Homo sapiens: one gene and its partners. The protein of the gene in region 5 purifies or fractionates together with the protein of the main gene of each other region. This does not show direct contact. Each region holds a gene or a part of one and is shown on either strand. Other genes may lie near its edges.

Region 1 (3,500 bases), on a different chromosome or scaffold from region 5:
TTTCAACATAATTATAAATAAATTCCAGTTTAGAACATGAGCCAACCCAAAATATAGAATATATCTAAATCCTTGAGATAGCTGAGATTCCCAAATAGAGATATAAAGTAGGCTGTTGGATACAGATAGGAATCTGGAGTTGAGAGAAGTCTATCTTGGCGAAATAAAACTTGGGAGTATTTAACATATTCATGGTTTTGAAAACTGTGAGATTAAATAAAACCTTTCAGGGAGAGAGAAGGAGGGGAAAGAAAAGGGTCTAGAGGAAGCTATAAGGAGTCCCAAATAAGAGGGGAAACAGCATGGGAAACTGAGAAAGAATGGCCAAGGGAGGAAGATGTGAGGAGACCGAGTGCCATGACAGCTGAGAGAAGGCAGTGTGCCAAGAAAGAGGTAACATCTGCTGTGTTGAGAATGCACCTGAAATGAGGCCAGAAAATGCACATTGGAATTGGCAGTATGGAGACAGCTGGTGACCCTGACAAGAGCACTTTCGATGCGTGGTAAAGATGAACAGCTAAACTGGAAAGGGGAAGGAATGGGAGGCAGGAAAGTGAGGCAGCAGGGGGAAAAAAGAAAAGCTCTTCTGAGAAGTTATTTTGCAAAGCAAAACAGAAAAACGGGAGGGATGTTAGAGAATGGTGTGTTAGCTGGAAGAAAATGTGGGATTAAAGTCAGTTCTTTTTTTAAGATGGGGAAAATTATGCATGTCTTATGTCAAAATAAATTACCACTTCTAGCAAGAGTAATCATTGAATGCTAAGCAAATAACTACTGATTTCCTCAATGATGAGCTAGAAAGGCGAAGACAAAAGTGCATAGTGGCCAGGCACAGTGGCTCATGCCTGTAATCCCAGCTCTTTGGGAGGCTGAGGCAGGCAGATCACCTGAGGTCAGGAGTTCAAAGCCAGTCAGGCCAACATGGTGAAACCTTGTCTCTACTAAAAATACAAAAATTAGCTAGGCGTGGTGGCAGGTGCCTGTGATCCCAGCTACTCGGGAGGCTGAGGCAAGAGAATCACTTGAATCCGGGAAGCAGAGGTTGCAGTGAGCTGAGATGGCGCCACTGCACTCCAGCATGAGTGACAGAGCAAGACTCCATCTCAAAAAAAAAAAAAAAAAAAAAAGTGCATAGCCCTCCCTCATGAGAATTTCTTTAAGCCCTTAAATTCAAATTCTCAGAAATTTATCCTCACAAATTCCAAATGTATATATGTCTTATGGTTACAATCTTTTGAACATGGGGAGATAACAATTTGTGGCCACTGCCTAGAATCTAGACAACCCAGGCTTATCTGGTTGGGGGATGGAGCAGAAGGTCACAAGGTAGAACTGTCTTAAAGGTGCTATATAATTCACATATTGGGATTTGGACTCCAAGTCCTGCAGGCTAGGTTCAAATTGGTGTAACTACCACTGCAAATGACTACTGCAGCATATCAATAACTAATGTGTCAGATTAAAATCGATGTTAGTGATTTCTTGACTCATCTCTATGACTAGTACAGGGACATTATCTGTATCAAAAGCAGGCTGGAAAGCAGGACTCTTTGAAATATAGTGGCAGAGATAACCAGAAAGGGAGGGGGCGACTGCCGTCATGTGGGAAAGTTCCCAACGATTCCATCAGTGAAAGGTGATCTATGTTAAGATTGCTGTCTGAGATATATATAAGGCAGTGAGCGGTATGCAAATATTCAGTGAATGAAATGAAATGAATCTCTAATCCAGAGATTTGTTCAATTTAAAAAAGAAGACAAATTTATGCTCAAAATTCAACAGTGTATTTTTGCAAAGCTTAATAAACTGGATTAAGCATATCAATTGCAAAATTTGGTTCCTAGGAAATATTTAAATTATGATATACATATTCTCAATATCAGAAATATCAATAATACTCTAAACGAAGACCAAAATGTTATTAGAGAAAATATTTAAAAATTTTCTAGAAGTTTTGGTTTTTGACTTCATGTAGTTTTTACACACTAACAAATCATTTAAAAACTAGGCTACTACTAGTACTGCTGATAATGGTATCAATGGGAGACGGTCAGTAGAATATTTCATTCTGAACTGAAAGGCATCTTAACACAGCTGGCTGATGAAAAAGAGAGAAAGTAAGTTTTCCATAGTATGTTAATGTGGTTTACAATGGATAGCCAGTTATAAGTGAAAACACAGTTCTGTCAAATTTAGTTGGCAGAGAAAATCTTGAAAAATGGCTTTTGTTATAACTTCTATAACTTACTAATAGCCCATTTCAATTTTCTCAAGGCCATTCCTATGGTTCAAACAAATTAAGCACTCTAAAATTGGGCATTTAAGAAATAAAAATGACCCATTAATTGGCTTTCTGCAAAAGTTACAGAAATGGTACCAACTGCCTTTAGTTGCTGCATTCTGCTCTTGTTAATTAATTCTCATGGGTCCACACATTTTTCCCCCTTGGGGTGGGTAAGTCTTTTTGTAGATACAATTTTGTGATTTTGATTGCTCCTTCTGAACCATGGCTTGTACTCGGTTCCTTATCATTATGGGCCATGCAGAATCAGAGAAGTTTAGGTTTGAATTAATCATCCTAATAAAAGAATGTAACAGCAACTTTAATTTGCCATGTCAGCATGGCAAGACTGCTTATAGTGTTCTTCCCAGATCTGTCCATCAGACTGAATGAGATTCTCACTAGACTCTCTAGTAAACACTCCTGTACCTACTCTCCCCTGCCACTCCTGAAACCTCAGCAAAACTAAAACTGATACAGGTGCAGTGGCAGGGAGTAGAGGTAGGAGTAGGAGTGGGGATGCAGAAGATGCCTCTGTCCTTTAAGACCCAGGCAGAGATGCTTCTTTTCTATTATTTATTTAATTTTAAATTTTTATTTATTTTTTTTGAGACAGAGACTCACCCTGTCACCAAGGCTGGAGTCCAGTGGCACAATCTCGGTTCACTGCAACCTCTGTATTCTAGGTTTAAGCGATTCTCCTGACTCAGCCTCCCGAGTAGCTGGGCAGGTGCCCACCACCATGCCTGGCTAATTTTTGTATTCTTAGTAGAGATGGGGTTTCACCATGTTGGCCAGGCTGGTCTCGAACTTCTGACCTCAGGTGATCTGCTCGCCGTGGCTTCCCAAAGTGCTGGTATTACAGGTGTGAACCACCGTGCCTAGCCTGTTTTCTGTTCTTTTAAAAATGGGTTTATTAAGATATAATTAACACACTAAACAACTCATCCATTTAAAGTGTACAATTCAATGGTTTTTAGTGTATTCAGAAAGCTGTGCAACCATTACCATAGTCGATTTTAGAATGTTCTCATCATCCCCAAAAGACATTCTGCACTCTTTAGCCATTACTCTCTATTTTCCTGAAGCCTAGGCAACCACTAACCTACTTTCCGGCTCTATGTTTGCTTTTTCTGGACATTTCATATGAATGGAATCATACAATATGTGGTCCTTTTTGACTAGCTTCTTTCATTTAGCATAATCTTTTTAAGTTTCA
Region 2 (3,500 bases), on a different chromosome or scaffold from region 5:
CCTCTGGAGGAGACTTCACAGGACACATCTATGTCCCGCCAGACCAGGTATTTGCAGAAAAGGAGAAGAGAAAAGAGGGCTGGGGACATCCCCTTCCAGGGATTGTTTTGGGAGGGCCGGTGACTCCGCTGCGGCCACCTACCCTGGTTGTCCAGCTTCTGTAGGCGCGGCAGGGTGCGCAGCACGGTCATGCGGTAGCGGTGGGGGCTGGTGCCGCAGCACGGGTTCTCGGCCAGCCACAGCACCCGCAGACGCGGCAGCCCCTTCAGGTAGAAGAGCTCAGCCAGGCTGGGGATGCGGTTCCTCCGCAGGTACAGCTCACTCAGGCGCTGGCACCGGCTCACAGGCTCCAGGGTGGAGATGCTGTTGACACTGCACGGAGACCAGCACAGTCAGCGAGGGACGTGGCCAGGGCCCCCAGGGCCACCTCTCAATCCCCACCCCCAGTAAAAGGCACTCATGGGACCTGTGTCCCTGCCCTCTCCTGAGAAGCCTAAATCGGATGTCACAAGTCACGTGCAGCAGGACCTGGGCCGAGGAGAGAGCTGTAGGAAGGCCAGGCCCTGAACTCAAAGGCGGACTGGGGTGGACCCCACCAGCAACAGCCCCTTGGCCCGACGCTCCACATCAGCTCCTCAGGGCGCTAGAGTGCGGGAGGTGGGGGATGTGGCCCTCCTTCACAGGTGAGGAAAATTAAGGCCTCTCAGGGGACATATCATGTTGCCCCAAAGCAGGGAGCGGCCAGAAAAACTCATGGCAAAAACTAGGAGCCAGCTCCACGTGACATGGGAGTGAGCACGGACCTTCCAAACCCCCACTTGAGGGCGGCAACACTGGGGATGGGCCTCATTTCCATTCTACAGAACGTGGACGCGTCAGAGAAGAGAAACAGCAGGCCTGGAGCGGGGACCTGCAGGCTTTACCCTGCAGCGTGGGGTCCGTCCCCTCCACAAGCGAACACGCGGAGCCGCTCCCGCAGGCCCTCAAAGGCGCGGAGCCAGGGCCCCCTGCCTGGAGGGCTGCACTCGCGTCCGGCAGGCGCCTCAGAAGGGCGGTCACCAGGCCCCCATGGGCAGCCTGCCGTCCTGAGCCCCCCTCCCCATGCCATCCCTTCACTCGGGGTTTCCCAGGTCTCATGCAGCTCCTAGCTATGAGGCCGCCCCATTTTACCAAGAGCAAAACTCCGGCTGTGGGACTCTTTCCAGGATGGGGTCTGCCTCAGGCACAGGCAGCAGCGTGATGTACCGACCGCGTCCGCGGCCTCGAGGCTTCCTGCTCCGCTCCAGTGCAGTCAGGCGTGCAGGCACCACGCACCTGAGCTCGGTCAACACCCCTGGGGTCCTGTCCCTCCCGAGATGTGACAGAAATGGCCCCACACACGAGCGGCCTGATGCTCGGAGGCCCTGTGGCCCCTGGGTGACTCAGTGAGCGGCAGGGATAGGGCTGGATCCACAGCCCCGCCCCAAGCTTCCTGCCACCGTGGGAACCACAAGCTCCACGTTTCCCTGTCAGGTAAGCCTTTCGGAGGCAGGCCTGAAATCCCAGCCTCACTGTGTCGCCTGACTAGTGAAACGAGCCCCGCGGCAGGCACGCGCACCCCCCCTCAACCTCTGGGCGGGCACGCGCACCCCCCCCCCCCCCCCGCTCAACCTCTGGGCGGGCACGCGCACCCCTGCTCAACCTCTGGACTCGGGCTCCATCTCCTCCTCATCTCCCTGTGGGGTGGGCACTTGTAATACCTCCATGTTACAGAAAGGAAACTGAGGCACAGAGAGGGCCATGCCTCGCCCAAGGTTAGCCAGCCAATAGATGGGAGGGCTGAGATTTGACCCATGAGCATGCCTCCAAGCCCATTTCATTCATTCAGCAAGGCTCGGGCAGGACAGGCTGGTGCCCGCGCTGGGGATGCCTGAACACCAGATGGACTGGCCTCAGCCCATGGCGGGCAGCAGGCTGGGCACGGGCATCAACATGGCAATGCCAACCTCAGAGGGCATTACGGAGGATGGGCAGGGGCTGGCCTACCCCGTGGCTGCCTGTGAGATCAAGAAGGTAGGTCACAGTCAGGGACCAGGGGCCTGCAATACCCACTCTCAGAGGGCAAGCCCTAGAGACTTCTGAGCTGCCAGAGGGGTGGGCCTTCCCCACAGGGTTTAAACCCTTGTGAGCTTTTAAATGCGGAAACCCACAGAAGGCGCCCATCCAGCGTCTGGTGGGCAGTGGTGAGCCATGAGCGTCTGCTCCCTCCGTGGGTCCCACAGTAGGCAGGAGGGAATTCAGGGATAAAGGGAGCTCTTCTCTTCCCCAGAGCCCCCAAATACACCCCAACTGCCTGAAAGTCCAGTAACATTTGTTCATTCAAGCTTCCCTTAGTCTGCTGGGAGGGCAGTGACCCCAGAAGACGGGCACAGGTCATGGGGTGCAGAGAAACTGGTAGGCAGTGGTGGCACTGGGGGGCAGAAGAGGCCAGGACTCTGGGGGTCCCAGGGCAGATGTGGCCACCGTGGGGGCGGCCAGGGCGGGCCACCGTGAATCCTTAGGAGGGCTCCACCACCGACTGGCCCAGTGAACACAGCAATGGCTTATCGGAGCACACAGGCCAAGGGTGGGCAGGCGTACAGCAGGGCAGGCAGGGGACAGGAGCCATCAGGAGGCCCAGGTGAGGCTCTGAGGAAGGAGGGCTGAACATGGGGGCCACAGGGTAGGCCCAGCTCTCGCTGTCCCGGCCCCTCCCCTTCTGGAAGCCGCCCTCAGTCTGTGTTGGAGGTTTCCAGGTTATGTCACAGTGCTGGGTCCCACTGGAGGGACGTGAGGCTCTGCCCCGGCTTCCAGGCCCCAGGCTGAGCATGACAGCAGGAGCGAGGTACCTGAGCGTGATCACCTCCAGGCTGGGCATCTCCTGGCAAATGGAGATCTAGGAGGAAAAGAACATGACTAGCAAGCATGGCACAGCAGGGCATCGCGGCCGCACTGCCATCAGCCACAGAGAACTGTCGAAGCCACGGCCAACCCACTTCCGGGGCCTGAGGGGCACGGCCTTACTCAGCCAGTGTGCCCAGGGTGAATGCCCAGGGCCTGAGGGGAGCGGCCCTGCTCAGCCAGTGTGCCCAGGGTGAATGCCCAGGGCCTGAGGGGAGCGGCCCTGCTCAGCCAGTGTGCCCAGGGTGAATGCCCAGGGCCTGAGGGGAGCGGCCCTGCTCAGCCAGTGTGCCCAGGGTGAATGCCCAGGGCCTGAGGGGAGCGGCCCTGCTCAGCCAGTGTGCCCAGGATGAATGCCCACGAGTATGCCAGGTTCTCCTCTGACACCACCTTGCAGCCCAGACGCCCCGCAGACTGAAGGAGAAATGTGAGGCTCCTCCTTGCACGCACTCTGTCTTTATTAAATTTTACGACAGCATCGTTGCTGTCAGATGCTGCCAGCAGTGGAGACAGAGCATTCATTACTTTAGATGCCCTCAAAGGACATCAGGTAAGGGGACCCCAATGTCCCCTACGCAGGG
Region 3 (3,500 bases), on a different chromosome or scaffold from region 5:
CTTTTCTGAATGCAGATAGTCCAGACCTTTTAAAATTTCCTTTAGCATGGTAGCAATCTGGAACTCATCAAATGGACCAGCTCGAAGCTTAAGGGGAAAAACACACACACACATACACATATGTGTAAAAGTTTGGAAACATAAAATTCAAAATTGGTACCTTTGAAATGAAGAAATCACTTAGACACATGATGCCGTTCTGTTTATCAAACCAATATCTAAACAAGGAAGGAAAAATGTAAAATGTGAAGGAAGAAAGCAAAAGAGTTCAGTCAAAGGGCTGAACAGGTTTTTTAATGATTCAATTTAATGAAAGATAATACGAGCCCTTTTACCTATATACTAGGCTTCAAATTCTGAGGTTCCTGAATATTTACATCAAAGATGAAACAAATATGCTTACGTAATGACAGAACCAACTATCTGTTCTTTAGATGGAAAAAAAGAGAAATCAGCTACTTAAATTCAGGCAATTGCTGTGAAAAAGTTACTACATATTGACACGAAACTGATTTTTAGGTCAGAGAATCCATAAGATTTCCACAGCAACTATTTGATCATATCAGTCAGCATTTATGTATTTTAATAATATTGCAAAGAATAGCCTTTTTGAGACTCAAATTGTAAATTTAGCCAAGAATATAATAATTAAACTATTCAGACTATGATGGTAAAAAAAAATTAAATCATGGAGGGATAATGTTTTTCAAATAAATGTAACACATATCCCTTTATTTCCCCATCCCTGTACCAAAGCCAATAGTTCCAACTGGAATACAAGGAAAGCAATGATTAGGTTTCAGGAGAACTTGTAATGGAATATCTGAAAATCCCTCTTTAAAATAAATGGTTATTTTAAAATTCTGGTACCTCATAAAGCACAAACAGTGGACTGTACAATATTATTACAGGAAAGGGTGGGAATCTAAAGTCAGAGCAGAGGTAGAGTTCTGTTTGCTTCTGGAAGGAGGGAAGAGGTGGTGAAAATCAAACATTGCCCACTCTGCCTCACACTGGGAGGGATCCACAGCTCTTTGGCACCTTGTGTATTTCATCTTTCATGAATGCCATATTTATGCTGAATAAAGGGCACTTTCATGTTGAAATTTAACAGCTTAAAATAGAACTCATACTTTGGTCTCACCATCTAATATTAACTGTGGTCTGGGTATATAGTATACTCCAGGGATATCTGTAATTCAATAGGTCCCTTTCCTAGGTAACATTATCTACTTACTTTCAAATCTATCAACTTCCACCCCAAAGTTTCTATTCAAACAGTAGTGATTAAAATAGTTTCTAAAGTCTTCTAGAAAGGTTGAAAATGGCATACTATTTTGTTGATGGCTGGCAATGAACTTCTGAGGTACTACAAAATAACTAAAGGACAAATGTCACACTACTTAAGATCAGTAATTAGTATCATCTGATCACAGGACATTGGCAAGACCAGGGGAGGTATATCCTTGGTTATTTCAGTGATTGGGCAAGATTAATGTACGACCTACTAGCTATCATTCTGAAGGACATGTAAAAGTAACATAAATAAGCCAGTATATTACCTAATACAGAAGTTTTTAAAAATATTTAAGTAAAAACAACAAAAAGGGGATCCCAAAGATTCATGAGCTTATCTGCTATATTTTAGGTTCATGTTAAAATTCAATAAAAGTGAAATCTCAATTAACTGGGTGCTAGAGGAGGATGGGAAGAAAGACTCTGTGGCAGGGAGACTTCTCCATTTGAACTTTTCTCCGATAACTGAAGAACTTGCCATGTCTCTAACAGATAATATCTCTGTCCCAGGGCAGTGTACTTGCCTTGTGTAATTTGCCTCTGTTGTCAAGTAAGAATATGCAAGAGAGGGACCTTGACTCTTTCGAAGACTGTACATTTGTGAGCTCATGGATCTTTGTCACAATTTAACTTCCAGCCAGTCCCTAATGCAGTCTGCTATTTTATGCCCTCTCTTATGGTTAGCATATTGTTTCTTTTTTCTTGGGGCTCATGTTTTATTCTAGTCATCTTATTATATGTGTTTTTGTTGCAAGCCACCACGATTCTTTTTGGAAAGAAGTGGAGCATAATAAACTCAATAAAATGATGTGCAATATACTCAAAGTCTGCTCACATACAATAAATTGTTTTTCAAGAATGGGAGTGACTCAAGGTAGACACTGTATAATGTTAACATAAATGACAAGTTGTAATCTTATGTTATTCCATTAGTTAGGTACCAGGCACCAGTTTAATGTGAGAAACACTCTCTGCTAAACATCCCTCTTATTTCCTCTTGTTCTTAGTAGCAGAGCCTTCCTCTACACCTAATCCTGTCTTAGATTCCCCCAAATGATAGCATTTATTTGTACAGGAATATACATGAAAAAGGAATAGCACATTTTCTCATTATCTGCTCTCCCTGTAAAGTCTAGTTAAATGAGTTTTATAATTAAATCACAATATTATTGAATTTTAGAGCTAAGAACACAAAATTAGAGATTACTGATTCAATTTCTTCATTTAACATGTGAATAAATTAAGACACAAGGAGGCTAAAGGGCCGCCCAATATTTGCCAGGCAGTCAGTGTTAGCACTGGGTTTATGACCTAGGCCTTTTGATTCTTAACCAATACAGTACTAACAACATTTTTCATTCATTGAAACTGTTATTAATGGCTATTTGTTTTATTAAGTAGAGTTCAGAATAGCAGGATGAGATTAAGATCTCACAATCATTTAACTTGGAGATTTCATAAAACTGACCAAACTACTAATAGGGGACACAGATTTGGGTCATTGGTTGGGGTTAGGCCAGTGTTCACTGTTTAACATTGCTATCAGTGATCCTGTTGAACAGAGTGGCCTAGCTTTGCCAGTGCTTCCAAAATGGGGAAGAGATATGGTGAGCACCCTGAGGAACCAGATAAGACAACTGATAAATTTGGAAAGGGCTCTTAATATTCAAAAAATGGAAGGAGGATCATGAAACAATTGAGAGGCTTCTTGTAGAGCTAATGAAAAAACTATTGAATAATATGACTCTGTGACAAGACAAATAGAAATGAGATCATTTAACTTCAAGAGGAGAATGAAGCCTGACTCCATATGCATGAAGGATTATTACACAAAGAAACATCAGTGGTGTTCTCTCACTAGAGACGAGAGAAAAAAAATGAACTCAGGCTTTAGGATATAAGAATTAGATTAGACACAAGGAAAGATTACCAAATTCAGCAACTGATTAAACTGACATGAATTCCTAGTAGTAGATGAGGCTCTCCATCAAGTTTAATTACCATTTCTTTAAAATGGTTTAAATATGGTTCTGCCTAAAGGAAAGAAAATCTCTTATAGTCATTTCTGTTCATAAAATTATTTGAAGCTTTGAGTTACTGGCAGTCAAGGTTAAAGCCTTTTAAAAATATTTAATCACTTTCAGTTAGGAAAACTCATCTCCACCTAAAAAAATAAGAATTAAAATATTACTTGATTATTTTAA
Region 4 (3,500 bases), on a different chromosome or scaffold from region 5:
TTATATTTTATTATTTTATTTTATGAGACAGGGTCTCGCTATGTTGGCTAGGTTGGTCACAAACTTCCTGGCCTCAAGCAGTCCTCCTGCCTCGGCCTCCCAAAGTACTGGGATTACAGGCATAAGCCACTGTGCCTGGCCTAAACTCAAACATTATTAAGAAAGATTTCATAAATGTAAGACACCCCTATGATATTATTATACTTTGACATTAAAATACATAAGAGATACCTAATAGAATTATAGAAAAGAAGGGATTCTGTGGGCCAGGTGCTCACTGGGAGGTTACCTTGTGCTTCTCCATGCACCACTCCCTTTACAAGTAGGCCAGCTAGAGCCAGGGGCAACAGCAGAGCAACATGACAATGTCATGATGTCAATGTCTTTAGTCAGCCATGCTGCTGAGCCTGACAACAGACCAATATGTGCCCTTCATGCTCTGGACAGCCAGGCCAAACCCGCTCTCATCTTTTGCCTACCAGGAAAAAACATCAACCTACTTTTGTTGGAAGAGATTAAATAAGGCAAATCTTGTAAGAAAGGAAGATTGCTACCAGCAGTTTTAAAATAGTCTTTCTCTTCATTTCCCCTAGTTTTCAAATAACTTCCTCACAAGTTTGTTCAGATGAAAATGCTTTTAAAGTGCTTAAGTTCTTGGCAGTTTTAACCTTACCATTCACTGCATTTATTAACAAACGTGTATACTTGAATCCTGGCTTTCCTGGCTACCCTAAAAGGGAGTGGATAAACAACTTATATGCCTTAGCAATCCCACTTTTAGGAATCGATCTTACAGGAATAAAAGCACCAATATAAAAATGTATTATGACATTGTTTATAACAGCAAAACTACTAAATTATGAAATATCCACACTGCTGAATATTATATGGCTATTAAAATTAATGTTAGACATGAAGTTGGACCCTTAACTTACACCATATACAAAAATTAACTCAAAAAACCAAAGATCTTAATGTAAGACCTGAAACCATAAAACTCTTAGGATAAAACATAAGGGAAAAGCTTCATGACCTCGGATTTGGCAATGATTTCTTCGATCTGATACCAAAAGCACAGGGAACCAGGGAACCAAAGAAACAAATAGATCAATTGGACTACATCAATTAAAAACTTCCATGCATCAAATAACACAATCAACAGAGTGAAAAGGTAACCCATGAAATGGAAGATAATATTTGCAAATCATCTGTCTGATAAGGGGTGAATATCCAGGATGTAGAAACAATTCCTACAACTCAACAAAAAAAGCCCCAAACAACCTAATTAAAAAATAACGGACTTGAACAGACATTTCTCCAAAGATATACAAATGGCCAATAAGCACACAAAAAAGATGCTCAGCATCACTAATCATTAGGGAAATGCAAATCAAAACTACAAGGAGATACCACTTCACACTCATTAAAATTATTATAAAACATATCAGAAAATAACAGGTGTTGGCAAGGATGTAGAACAACTGGAACTCTTGTGCACTTTTGGTGGGAATGTAAAATGGTGCAGCTGCTAAGGAAGGCAGTATGGTGGTTCCTCAAAAAATGAAAAAAAATTACCACAAGACCCAGCAATTCCATATATACCATTTTTGTATATATATAAAAAAATGGAAAGCAGGGTCTTGAGCAGATGCATTTCCAACTTCAAAAAGGAAGGAAATTCTGACACATGCTGCAACATGGATGAACCTTGAGGGCATTCTGTTAAGTGAAATATGCCAGTCACAAAAGGACAAGTACTGTATGATTCCACCTATATCAAGCATCTAGAGTAGTTCACAGAGACAGAAAGTAGAATGCTGATTGCCCAGGGTCAGGGGGAGGGTAGAACGGGGAGTGTGTTGAATGGGTACCATTTCAGTTTTGCAAGATGAAGAGTTCTGGAGATGGATGGTGTTGATAGCAGCACAACAATGTAAATGTACTTAATGCCACTGAACTATATTTTTGAAGATGACTTAGATGGCAAATTTGATGTTATATGTATTTTATCACAATTAAAAATAAACTTTAAAAAGTTAGATCTATTTATTGCCTAGAGAGGTAGCCATTAATATATTATCAAATAAAAAAAGCAAAAGGCAGCTAATACCTGTAAGTAGTGCAGTCTCATTTTTTAAGCCTACACCAAAGAACCCTGTGTGCATGAACTCCTGCAGATGTCTGTTCAGGCACAGTAAAGCACAGGACAAAGGACATAACTCAAGTTATTCAGTGCTAGGACTGGAAGAAAGGAGGAGAGGCTATTTTCATCATCATCTTCAAATACCTCAGTACTGCTAGAATATGCCAGTGAACTTTTTAATTTTTACAGTTAAAAAAACAGAAAAACAATACATACCCATTCCTGCTGCTATAACTGGCACAGGCAAATCATAATTGTATAGAAGAAAAGACAACATGAGGAAGTCAATGTAACTTCGATGACTAGGCAGCAGAACAACAGGATGCTCCTGGATGGCTCTTTGTAGCTTGAAAGTAAATGTTACATTTTGAATAATTTCAGTTGTCATGTTATCAAATCACATCTCAAATCAGAAAACGGAAGAATAAGTCTATATTTAGAGGGAATACCCATCCTCTTTTTCTGCCTTTTTGCCATACACATAAACGATTTGCTCTGATAAGGTAAAAGTACTGTTTCTAGTTAAACAATTTCACATAATGCAAGAATATTAAAAATGTAAATTTTTATGGATCAGAATAATAACAGTGATGATCGCTAACATATATTAGTTGGGCACTATATTAGCATCATTTTATATACAGTTATCTTACGTGCTTTGTTTAATACCACATAATTAACAAGGTCTAAGCCTTAGCTTTCTTGTTTGTAAAATGGTCATGCATCCAATAAATGGCAGAGCTGTGAATGGAACCCAAGTCAGTCTGACTTAAAAAGCCAACTGTTAACCACTGTATTGAATTGGTTGGTTGTAGTAAGAGAAAACAAAGCTTCTCTTGGAGAGATTAAAAAAAATCTACAAATTCATAGGACAAGGTGAGAAGAATGGTATTTCTCTATGTGCTGGACTCACTGCCAGGGTGAATGGGTGTCATGTGGCTGGGAGGGATAATTTGAGTTTCCAAATATACTCCTCAGGCCATCAATCTCAAGATTCACTGGTATCCATGTGTTATCTGTTTTTTTGAAATCTAAATGTAACAGAGGCCAGGTAATCTGTGATCATCACTTAAGAAATGGCTCACCACCACCCTTGGTCCCAAACACTGTAACATTCTCTGACAGATTCAGGGTATAAGTCAGCAATCTCGAAAACAGTCAGTAGGAAGAAGAAATATTTGACAGGAAAGTAAATGACTGAATTAAAACAAAATATTAAAAGGGATGAGGAGGAAGGCAAGTGAAGTTAAGAGCTTTCCTAGAAGAAAAAAATATAAAACACAAATAAGTAAAAATACTCTTCATAAGGAAAGCTCTTTATGAAATTAGAAAAGTCATCATTTGGCAATCATTAACA
Region 5 (3,500 bases):
TCTGGCTGTATTGCCCAGGCTGGAGTGCAGGGGCACCATCTCAGCTCACTGCAACCTCTGCCTCCCAGGCTGAAGCCATCTTCCCATCTCAGCCTCCCGAGTAGCTGAAACTACAGGCAGGCATCACCACACCCAGCTGATTTTTGTACTTTTTGTTTGCCATGTTGCCCAGGCTGTTCTCGAATGAACTCGTGAGCTCAAACAATCCACCTACCTGGGCCTCCCAAAGTGCTGGGATTACAGGTGTGAGCCACCATGAACAGCCAATCCTATTTTCTTTCCTTTTTCTTTGAGACGGAGTCTCGCTCTGTTGCCAGGCTGGGGTGCAGTGGTGCAATCTCAGCTCACTGCAACGTCCGCCTCCAGGGTTCAAGCAATTCTCATGCCTCAGCCTCCCGAGTAGCTGGAATTACAGGCACGTGCCACCACACCCAGCTAATCTTTGTATTTTTAGTAGAGACGGGATTTCACCATGTTGGCCAGGAGGGCCTCAAGCTCCTGACCTCGTGATTTGCCCGCCTCAGCCTCCCAAAGTGCTGGGATTACAGGTGTGAGCTACTGGGCCTGGCCCTAGCCAATCCTGTTTTCAAAGTCTAAAGTGGCCACCGCCAAGCAAGCAGTCATTAGAAGGAGCTCGTCTCTCCCTTGCTTCATCCTCAGACCCCTGGGGATCCTCTCTGAGCTCCCATACATCTTCTGACTCCTCCCCTTTGAAGTAAAGGATTAGGGCCAACACAGTGGCTCACACTTGTAATCCCAGCACTTTGGGAGGCCGAGGAGGGCAGATCACGAGGTCAGGAGATCGAGACCATCCAGGCCAACACGGTGAAGCCCCGTCTCTACTAAAAAAATGCAAAAAAATTATCCGTGCATGGTGGCGGGCACCTGTAGTCCCAGCTACTCAGGAGGCTGAGGCAGGAGAATGACGTGAACCCGGGAGGCGGAGCTTGCAGTGAGCCAAGATTGTGCCACTGCACTCCAGCCTGGGTGACAGAGCAAAAAAAATCCGTCTCAAAAAAAAAGAAGTAAAGGATTAGGGAATAGCCCTGGTCCCTACCCCTAGCCTAGACTGGTGCCCAAGTCAGGGTCCTGGCCAGAGCTACCATGTCTGACTCCCCATCCTTGCCTGGTGAAAGGTGCCACCCAGGCTGGGTGTGGTGGCTCACACCTGTAATCCCAGCACTTTGGGAGGCCAAGGCAGGTGGATCACCTGAGGTCAGGAGTTCGAGACCTGCCTGACCAACATGGAACCCCGTCTCTACTAAAAATACAAAATTAGGCCAGGCGCAGTGGCTTATGCCTGTAATCCCAGCACTTTGGGAGGCTGAGGTGGGCGGATCACGAGGTCAGGAGTTTGAGAACCAGACTGGTCAACATGGTGAAACCCTGTCTCTACTGAAAAAAAAAAAAAAAATTAGCCAGGTATGGTGGCGCGTACCTGTAGTCCCAGCTACTCAGGAGGCTGAGGCAGAAGAATCGCTTGAACCCAGGAGGTGGAAGTTGCAGTGAGCCAAGATCGAGCCACTGCACTCCAGCCTGGGCAACAGAGCTAGACTTCGTCTCAAAAGAACAACAAAAAAATACAAAATTAGCCAGGCGTGGTGGCACATGCCTGTAATCCTAGCTACTCGGGAGGCTGAGGCAGGAGAATCGCTTGAATCCAGGAGGTGGAGGGTGGAGGTTGTAGTGAGCAAAGATTGCGCCATTGCACTCCAGCCTGGGCAACAAGAGCAAAACTCTGTCTCAAAAAAAAAAAAAAAAAAAAAAGAGAGAGAGAGGCGGGGTATGGTGGCTCACGCCTGTAATCCCAGCACTTGGGAGGCCGAGGCAGGTGGATCACGAGGTCAGATCGAGACCATCCTAGCTAACACGGTGAAACCCCGTATCTACTGAAAATACAAAAAAAAAAAAAAATTAGCCGGGCATGGTGGCAGTTGCCTGTAGTCCCAGCTACTCAGGAGGCTGAGGCAGGAGAATGGCGTGAACCCGGGAGGCGGAGCTTGCAGTGAGCCGAGATCGCGCCACTGCACTCCAGCCTGGGCGAAAGAGTGAGACTCCATCTCAAAAAAAAAAAAAAAAAAGAAAAGAAAAAGAAAGGTGCCACCTGGGGTTGTGCATCATGTGGCCTGTGTGGCCACAGCCGGTGGCCTCCTCTGAAGGTAGGAAGGCAGAGCCCGGCACAGGGAACAGGAGGAGTGTAAGCAGCGACTCACTCATTCTTCTTCCCCTTTTGGGCCAGCAGCCAGTTCACAAAGTCTTGTTGGTGAATCTTGTCCATGGCAATACTGTAGTCACTGATGAAAGTCCCTTCCGCGTACCTGGGGCCTCGAGGTTGAGGGCTGCTCACCTTAGCATGAGATCCAACAGGCAGGGAGGGGAGAGCGCTGGAAACAAGGGTGCGGAGAAGGGGCAGAGATGGGGGGAGAATCACAATGCTAGGGTAAATGACTGTCACTAACAGGAGGCAGACACTTGAAAACAAACCAGTCCGTTTTTATGGAGACTCCCTGTGGATCCACTCCCCCACCCCACCCCAGGCTTTATCCTCAGCTCCAGGGCCCACTTCCTGCAGCCTCAGTGTGTGTGGCTCTGGATTCTGGGCAAAAAGAGATCACGGGGCCAGGGGCGGTGGCTCATGCCTGTAATCCCAACACTTTGGGAGGCCAAGGCAGGCGGATCACCTGAGGTCGGGATCGAGACCAGCCTGACCAACATGGAGAAATCCCGTCTCTACTAATAATACAAAAATTAGCCAGGCGTTGGCAGGGCGTGGTGGCTTACGCCTGTAATCCCAGCACTTTGGGAGGCTGAGGCGGGCGGATTACAAGGTCAGGAGATCGAGACCATCCTGGCTAACACAGTGAAACCCCGTCTCTACTAAAAATACAAAAAATTAGCCAGGCATGGTGGTGGGCGCCTGTAGCCCCGGCTACTCGGGAGGCTGAGGCAGGAGAATGGCGTGAACCCGGGAGGCGGAGCTTGCAGTGAGCTGAGATTGCGCCAGTGCACTCCAGCCTGGGAGACAGAGCGAGACTCCGTCTCAAAAAAAAAAAAATTAGCCAGGCGTGGTGGCACATGCCTGTAATCCCAGCTACTCAGGAGGCTGAGGCAGGAGAATCACTTGAACCTGGGAGGTGGAGGTTGCAGTGAGCTGAAATCGTGCCATTGCACTCCAGCCTGGGGAACAAGAGCAAAACTTCGTCTCAATAAAAAAAAAAAAAAAAAAGGCTGGGTGCGGTGGCTCACGCCTGTAATCCCAGCACTCTGGGAGGCCAAGGTGGGTGGATCACAAAGTCAGGAGATTGAGACCATCCTGGCTAACATGGTGAAACCCCGTCTCTACTAAAAATACAAAAAAATTAGCCAGGCGTGGTGGCAGGCGCCTGTAGTCCCAGCTACTTGGGAGGCTGAGGCAGGAGAATGGCGTGAACCCAGGAGGCGCTGCTTGCAGTAATCGGAGATCGCGCCACTGCACTCCAGCCTAGGTGACAAAGGGAGAC
Region 6 (3,500 bases), on a different chromosome or scaffold from region 5:
GAAGAAAGTCATTGTTACAAATATAGAAAGGGAGAAAAAATCCTGTGGATGTTGAATTAAGAGTTGGAGATACCAATGAGACTTCATGGTCTCTCTCTCTCTCTCTCCTCTCTCCTCTCTTCTCTCTCCTCTCCTCTTCTCTCTCTCTCTCTCTCTCTCTCTCTCTCTCTCTCTCTCTCTCTCTCCTTTCTTTCTTTCTCTCTCTTTCTCCCCCAAGCTGTGGCACTGAGAAGGCATTGAGGCAGTAAGCTTGCCTCTCTACCCCCATTGTATTAATCGATACACTTATACACTTATTGCACAGAGATCTCGGCTTCTAAATACCATTCTTCACTAGAAAGAACCAGGGCTTCTTGGGAAAAAATAGCTAATTCCAGAGCTGGGGCAAGGAAAGCGCAATCTGAACCTAGAACATCCTATGTAAGAAAGCAACCACTTAAAAAATAGACACAAGTCAAAAGGACACAGAAACAAATTTGAAGAGATTCCCACTGGCCAAATCTGGGATATTCTGAGCATAAAAGAAACAATCATAGTAACAGATTAAAACTCATTAAATGAAACAGGAAACTATAAATCCACCAATATAAATAAATATGTTGAATATCTGACGAGCAATGGGATATTTACACCATTTCAAAGCATCTCCCTATAAAACACTTATTAATCATAAAGAAAAAGTAACTGTACAGTGGAGAAGGCTGGCAGACCCCACCTCAATCAGGTGATCAGAGTGAACATCATGAGTAATGGGACAAATGGAGATTATGTACCATCTGATAGGTGCAATGAGAATACAGCATCACTTCTGTAATATTCCAGCCAAATATGCATAATCCAGGCCGGGCATGGTGGCTCACACCTGTAATCCTAGCACTCTGGGAGGCCAAATCGGGCAGATCATTTGAGGTCAGGAGTTTGAGACCAGCCTGGCCAACACGGCAAAACCCCATCTCTATTAAAAATACAAAAAATTAGCTGGGCGTGGTATCTGAGTAGCTGTAATCCCAGCTACTCAGGAGGCTGAGGCAGGAGAATCGCTTGGACCTTGGAGGCAGAGGCTGCAGTGAGCCGAGATCACACCATTGCACTTCAGCCTGGGCAACAAGAGCAAAACTCCATCTCAAAACAAACAAACAAGTATGTATAATCCAAATCTAGTCAGAAGGAAACATGAGACAAACCCATACTGACAGACATTCTACAAAATAAGTGGTCTGTAATCTTCAAAGTGTCCTGCAGTTGAGTCACAGGATCACAAAAATATGAATAAAAATTTTTTAAGTAAAAAAAAAAAGTGGAGGAAAGACTGAGGAGCTCTTCCATACTGAAGGAGACTAAGGGGACATGATCACTAAATACAGTATGTGATTCTGAACAAAACCCTTTTGCTATAAAGAATTTGTGAAACCTGAATGGAGTCTGAGGGTTAGATGGTAACAGTGAATTAATGTAAATTTCCTGCTTTGATAGCTATATGGGTATTATAAAGAAAAATGTCCTTTTGTGTAGGAAATACACAGTAAAGTATTCAGGGGTAATGGGACATCAGCTGGCATCCTACTCTCAAATGTTAGAAAAAGGTAATTCTTTATACTGGATATTGTGATTTTTTATTTAAAAAATCCCAACAATGGAATGTTATTCAGCCTTAAAAAGGAAAGAAATTCTGGCTGGGCACGGTAGCTCACACCTGTAATCCCAGCACTTCTGGAGGCCAAGGAGGGCGGATCACTTGAGGCCAGGAGTTCAAGACCAGCCTGGCCAACATAGCAAAACCCCATCTCTACTAAAAATACAAACAAAATTAGCCAGGCTTGGTGGCACATGCCTGTAATCCCAGCTACCTGGGAACCGGAGGCATGAAAATCACTTGAACCAAGAGGCAAGGTTGCAACGATCTGAGATTGCACCACAGCACTCCAGCCTAGGTGACAGAGCGAGATTCTGTCTCAAAAAATAAAAATAAATAAAAAGGAAAACAATTCTGGTTGGGCATGGTGGCTCACACCTATAATCCCAGCACTTTGAAAGGCGGAGGTGAGTGGATCACTTGAGGTCAGGAGTTCGAGACCAGCCTGGCCAACATGGTGAAACCCCATCTCTACTAAAAATACAAAACTTAGCTGGGTGTGGTGGCACGCGTCTATAATCCCAGCTACTCAGGAGGCTGAGGCAGGAGAATCGCTTGAACCTGGGAGGCAGAGGTTGCAGTGAGCCAAGATCGCACCACTGCACTCCAGCCTGGGTGAAACAGCGAGACTCCGTCTCAAAAATTTAAAAAAAAAAGGAAATTCTGACACATGATACAATATGTAATGAACCTTGAAGACATTATGCTAAGTGAAATAAGCCAGACATAAAAGGACAAATACTGTATGATTCCACTTATATGAAGTACTTAGAGTTTCAATTTGGGAAGATGAAAAAGTTTTGGAGATGGCTGGTGGTGATAGTTGCACAACAATGTGAATGTACTTAATGCCACTGACCTATATACCTAAAAATGGTTAAAATGGTAAATATTATGTCATGTATATTTTACTATAATTTTCAAAAAAATAAAGCAGACTGCTTCCCCCGCCGCAAAAAAAAAAAAAAAAAAAAAAAAAATTAATTCCATAGAGGAACGAAATAAAACTTCTCTTACCTCCAAATTATCAGGGCAATATTTTTGCTCTAGGTCCCAAGAGGGTGTTTCACCAAACATCACCATTAGATGATCAATAAACCTAAGGATAAAACATGTACTTTCTGGGTATCAATAACTCATGATCTATTTTCCCACATCGGTCCCCAGACACTAATTCAAAGTTATCTAGAATGTATAAAACATGAAATGCAGGCTTAACCCATTTGACAGCAGTACCCCAAATGTGTATATGTATCACTTGTCCTATTATGACATAATTTTATTTTATTTTATTTTATTTTTTTTTTTTGAGACAGGGTCTCGCTCTGTCACCCTGGCTAGAGTACAGTGGCATGATAACAGCTCACTGTAGCCTCGACTTCCGGGCTTAAGCAATTCCTCTACCTTAGCCTCCTGCATAGCTGAGACTACAGGCACATGCCACCATGCCTGGCTAATTTTTTTCTTTTTTTTGTAGAGATGGGGGTCTCCCTATATTGCCCAGGCTGGTCTCAAACTCCTGGGCTCAAATTATCCTCCTGCCTCAGCCTCCCAAAGTTATTGGGATTACAGGTGTGAGCCCTGCACCTGACTGACAGGATTTTCTTTTTTTCTTTTCTTTTCTTTTTTTTTTTGAGACAAAGTCTTGCTCTGTCACCAAGGCTGGAGTGTGGAGTACAGTGGAACAATCTCTGCTCACTGCAACCTTCACCTTCTGGGTTCAAGTGATTCTCGTGCCCCAGGCTCCCAGACAGCTGGGACTACAGGCATGCACCACCATGCCCGGCTAATTTTTTATATTTTTATTAGGCACGGGATTTTGCCATGTTTGCCAGGCTGGTCTTGAACTCCTGGCCTCTAGTGATCC
Region 7 (3,500 bases), on a different chromosome or scaffold from region 5:
TGGTCATTGGGTAGTTACTTGGACGTCAGTAGTCCCTGAGAACTGGTCAGTAGAACTCAGTAACCATTAGCCACTATACAGACACTGGAGGTCAACAGAGTGGGATTCACAAGGCTGCAAAGCCCTTGGTCACTTGGGGGTTACTGGACAGGGAGGTCCAATGGCCCTGGGGGATCCAGGACACTTTGGGCTACAAGACAGTCACCAGTGTGGACTCCCTAGGCACCTATGGGCAGTCAAAGGCTCTGTCCCTCCCAGGCCCTGACCCCAGGGGTGGGCGCAGTCACTCACCCGGCTATCCGCACTGGGGGCCATCGTGTCAGTCATCCAGGAGCCGAAGCGGGACCCCATGGCCCGAACGGTGATGGGGTTACTGACCCCGGTCAGCTTCCCACAGCCTGGGAGGCAGGAACAGGGGGAATGAGGATGGGGAAATGAACAGCCCAAGAGAGGCCAGGCAAAGATGAAGTGCTGTGATCAAGTTGGGAAAGCTGGGACCAGGGATGAGGGAAGACTCAAAAATCTGGTCCCAATATGTTGTTCAGTTGTGAGTGAGGGGTTAGAGGCCAAGGGTCAGGGCCATTTCCAGCTTCTGGACTCAAGTGTAGCCTTAGGTAGGAAGGTCAAGGGTTGAGGTTTAAAAGTTAGAGGTCAAAACTGTGTCCAGCTTCTAGGCACAAACAGGTGATACTGGAGTTGGGTGTGGCAGTCAGAGATCAGGGGTCAGGGTCAAGGGCCAAGGCATACCCAGCTTCTGGGCGCAGGCGTGGAGCCGGGCCTCCAGGGCCATCACCCGTTGCTGCAGGTCCTCATACCCGTAGGCACCCATCTCCTCCTGAATGGCCGCCAGACTGCCGGAGAGATTCCTCACCTCCTCCCGCAAGCGTACAATGGTCCGCGTGTCTGCCTTGTACTGCTCCAGGACCGAGCTCAGGGGCAACAGTTCCGTCATCCTGTCCTTCAGCTCCTGTGCATCAAGATGGAACCATGGCCAAGCCTGACCCCTGGCCTTTGACCCAGACATGACTCCAACCTCTGACTCATAACTTCACCCTTTGTCTTTGATGCACACCTGGCCCTTGACATGTGGCTCATATTGGACCCTAGATTCTTCCCAGACATGACTCCATTGTAGGAACTAATGGATACCAAATCCCAGTCATTTGTTTGACCTCTGGTCTGGACACAGGAGGACCCACCTGGAAGCTCTTGGCCGAGAGGGACCCATCAGCTGCCCGGAGCCGCGCATCCAGGCTCCGCATGAGGGTCTCCATGCCGCGTACATACTGGAGGTCGCGATACGTCCGCAACTCAAGGACCTCCATGGACTGGGAGACGTTCTGGACCTAGGAATGGGGACAACTGAAGGGACCAGACCTCCTTCCCCAAATCCCAACCCAGAGATGCCACAGACAAGAGCTGGCAGGAACAGAGGCTGTACAAACACCACACCGACGAGGCCACCTTCTCCTCCCCTGAGCTTACCAGCAGCCTCCCAATTGCGTGCCCAATCCATCCATCCATCGCTCCCTCCCTACTACCCACTGGCTCCCATCTGGTCCACCTACCACCACCTCTCACCTCCTCCCTAGTCTCCCAGTTCCACCTTCATCCCCTGTAGTCAATTCTCTACACAGCAGACAGAAGGAACTTTCAAAACAGAGATTAGATCACCTTCCTCCTCCACAGATCCTGTGCTGGCTGGTCCTGCCCACCCCCCCCGCCCAACCCACTTCCTCTCTCTTTGTTCTCACAGACTCTAAGCTCCTTCCTTCTGCAGGGTCTTTGCACTTGCTGGTCTCTCTACCTGGAGTGCTGTTCCCCCAAGTTCCCATGGCTGGCTCCTTCTCATCCTTCAGGGTTCAGCTCCAGCGTCCCCCACTCAAAGCATCCTTCCCTGACCACCCTGTCCGGTAGCCGCTCACTCACTCTCCTCTTGCCTGGTCATTTCCTTCCCAGCTGTGACTATGTAGAACATTCTTATCCATCTGCCTCCTTCAGGTGGGACCCTCAGAGGCAGAGGCTGCGTCTAGCTTGTCCACAGCTTAACCTCCAGTGCCCAGCACTGGCCTGGAGTAGAGGCCCAATAAGTATTTTTTGGCTGAATGAGTAAAATAAACTTCCCTTGCCCTGGCCTCTCCTGACCCAACCTGAGAGCACCCAGCTCCCACCTCCACCTGGCTACGGTGAACTCCACCTAGATAAGTTGAACTCCCCCTGGCTAAGGTAGACTCCCATCTGACTAAGGTGAACATCTGGCTAAGGTAGCCACCTTGTTAAGGTGAACTCCATCTCTGGCTTAAGTAGACTCTCACCTGGCTAAGGTAGACTCCAGCTGGCTAAGGTGAACACCTGGCTAAGGTAGACTCCCACCTTGTTAAGGTAGACTCTCACTTGGCTAAGATGAACACCTGGCTAAGGTAGACCCTCACCTGGCTAAGGTAGACCCTCACCTGGCTAAGGTAGACCTTTACCTGGCTAAGGTAGACTCTCACCTGGCTAAGGTAGATTCCCACCAGCTTCACCTGACTAAAGTGGACTCTGCCTGGCTAAGGTAAACTCAGTCAGAGTTACCACTGGATGCTTGTTGAAATACAGACTTTCCTGTACAATTATTCACATGACACTTGGAAACTCCCAGAAACTCAGCAGCCTAATACCCACCCTGAACGCCACAAAACATTTTTACATACTCTTCCCTTCTCCACAGTTTCACGTTTCAGCTACCTGAGGCCAACCACAGTCCAAAAATATTAAGTGGGAAATTCCAGAAATCAACAATTTGTAAGTTTTATTTATTTATTTATTTATTTATTTGAGATGGAGTCTTGCTCTGTCTTGCCCAGGCTGGAGTGCAGTGGTGCCATCTCAGCTCACTGCAACCTCCACCTCCCGGGTTCAAGCAGTTCTCCTGCCTCAGCCTCCCGAGTAGGTGGGACTACAGGCACACACCACCACGCCCGGCTAATTTTTGTATTTTTGGTAGAGGCTGATCTCAAACTCCTGACCTCAAGTGATACACATGCCTCAGCCTCCCAAAGTGCTGGGATTACAGGCGTGAGCTACCACGCCCGGCCCAGGGGACTATTTTCTCTTGACCATGATCAGAGGTAGAAGGAAACTTTTATAGGAGCCTCTTGAGGTGGAGGGTTAGACCCTCCCCAAGGGGCACAGAACTCCTTCTTAGTAGGTGAGTCTGGTGAACTGCAAAGCTGGGTGGGACATGCCTGGTGGACCAGAGCTCACACACAGGAGACTCAGATGCTGCCCCTCCAGTCTTCCTTCCTTCCCCCCACCCCAATCCCAGTAAGTGCTTGGCTTCTCTCCCAAAAAAGCATTGAACAGGCAGGGCGCAGTGGCTCACGCCTGTAATCCCCGCACTTTGGGAGGCCAAGACAGGCAAATCACCTGCAGTCAGGAGTTCAAGACCAGCATGACTAATATGGTGAAACCCCATCTCTGCTAAAAATAAAAAAATTAGCTGGGCGTGGTGGCACACG

What was found.
Region 1: the proteins of GIP (region 5) and ARSK purify together in Homo sapiens (affinity purification with mass spectrometry; one large-scale study listed by BioGRID and IntAct). This does not show direct contact.
Region 2: the proteins of GIP (region 5) and CFAP410 purify together in Homo sapiens (affinity purification with mass spectrometry; one large-scale study listed by BioGRID and IntAct). This does not show direct contact.
Region 3: the proteins of GIP (region 5) and STK26 purify together in Homo sapiens (affinity purification with mass spectrometry; one large-scale study listed by BioGRID and IntAct). This does not show direct contact.
Region 4: the proteins of GIP (region 5) and GNPAT purify together in Homo sapiens (affinity purification with mass spectrometry; one large-scale study listed by BioGRID and IntAct). This does not show direct contact.
Region 6: the proteins of GIP (region 5) and TTC4 purify together in Homo sapiens (affinity purification with mass spectrometry; one large-scale study listed by BioGRID and IntAct). This does not show direct contact.
Region 7: the proteins of GIP (region 5) and OLFM2 purify together in Homo sapiens (affinity purification with mass spectrometry; one large-scale study listed by BioGRID and IntAct). This does not show direct contact.

Annotation. Positions count from the first base shown.
Region 1 is NC_000005.10:95,561,601-95,565,100, reverse strand, and holds part of ARSK (arylsulfatase K precursor), read right to left. Parts: intron 1-3,500. UniProt on the Homo sapiens protein: Catalyzes the hydrolysis of pseudosubstrates such as p-nitrocatechol sulfate and p-nitrophenyl sulfate. Catalyzes the hydrolysis of the 2-sulfate groups of the 2-O-sulfo-D-glucuronate residues of chondroitin sulfate, heparin and heparitin sulfate.
Region 2 is NC_000021.9:44,332,891-44,336,390, forward strand, and holds part of CFAP410 (nuclear encoded mitochondrial protein C21orf2), read right to left. Parts: intron 2,915-3,500; coding exon 2,868-2,914; exon of another isoform or gene 373-2,867; coding exon 143-372; intron 1-142. UniProt on the Homo sapiens protein: Plays a role in cilia formation and/or maintenance. Plays a role in the regulation of cell morphology and cytoskeletal organization. Involved in DNA damage repair.
Region 3 is NC_000023.11:132,064,802-132,068,301, reverse strand, and holds part of STK26 (serine/threonine-protein kinase 26), read right to left. Parts: intron 88-3,500; coding exon 1-87. UniProt on the Homo sapiens protein: Serine/threonine-protein kinase that acts as a mediator of cell growth. Modulates apoptosis. In association with STK24 negatively regulates Golgi reorientation in polarized cell migration upon RHO activation.
Region 4 is NC_000001.11:231,261,712-231,265,211, reverse strand, and holds part of GNPAT (dihydroxyacetone phosphate acyltransferase), read right to left. Parts: intron 2,490-3,500; coding exon 2,360-2,489; intron 1-2,359. UniProt on the Homo sapiens protein: Dihydroxyacetonephosphate acyltransferase catalyzing the first step in the biosynthesis of plasmalogens, a subset of phospholipids that differ from other glycerolipids by having an alkyl chain attached through a vinyl ether linkage at the sn-1 position of the glycerol backbone, and which unique physical properties have an impact on various aspects of cell signaling and membrane biology.
Region 5 is NC_000017.11:48,962,097-48,965,596, forward strand, and holds part of GIP (gastric inhibitory polypeptide preproprotein), read right to left. Parts: intron 2,385-3,500; coding exon 2,214-2,384; intron 1-2,213. UniProt on the Homo sapiens protein: Potent stimulator of insulin secretion and relatively poor inhibitor of gastric acid secretion.
Region 6 is NC_000001.11:54,732,861-54,736,360, reverse strand, and holds part of TTC4 (tetratricopeptide repeat protein 4), read right to left. Parts: intron 2,733-3,500; coding exon 2,651-2,732; intron 1-2,650.
Region 7 is NC_000019.10:9,856,516-9,860,015, forward strand, and holds part of OLFM2 (noelin-2 isoform 2 precursor), read right to left. Parts: intron 1,661-3,500; exon of another isoform or gene 1,582-1,660; intron 1,347-1,581; coding exon 1,200-1,346; intron 968-1,199; coding exon 748-967; intron 399-747; coding exon 292-398; intron 1-291. UniProt on the Homo sapiens protein: Involved in transforming growth factor beta (TGF-beta)-induced smooth muscle differentiation.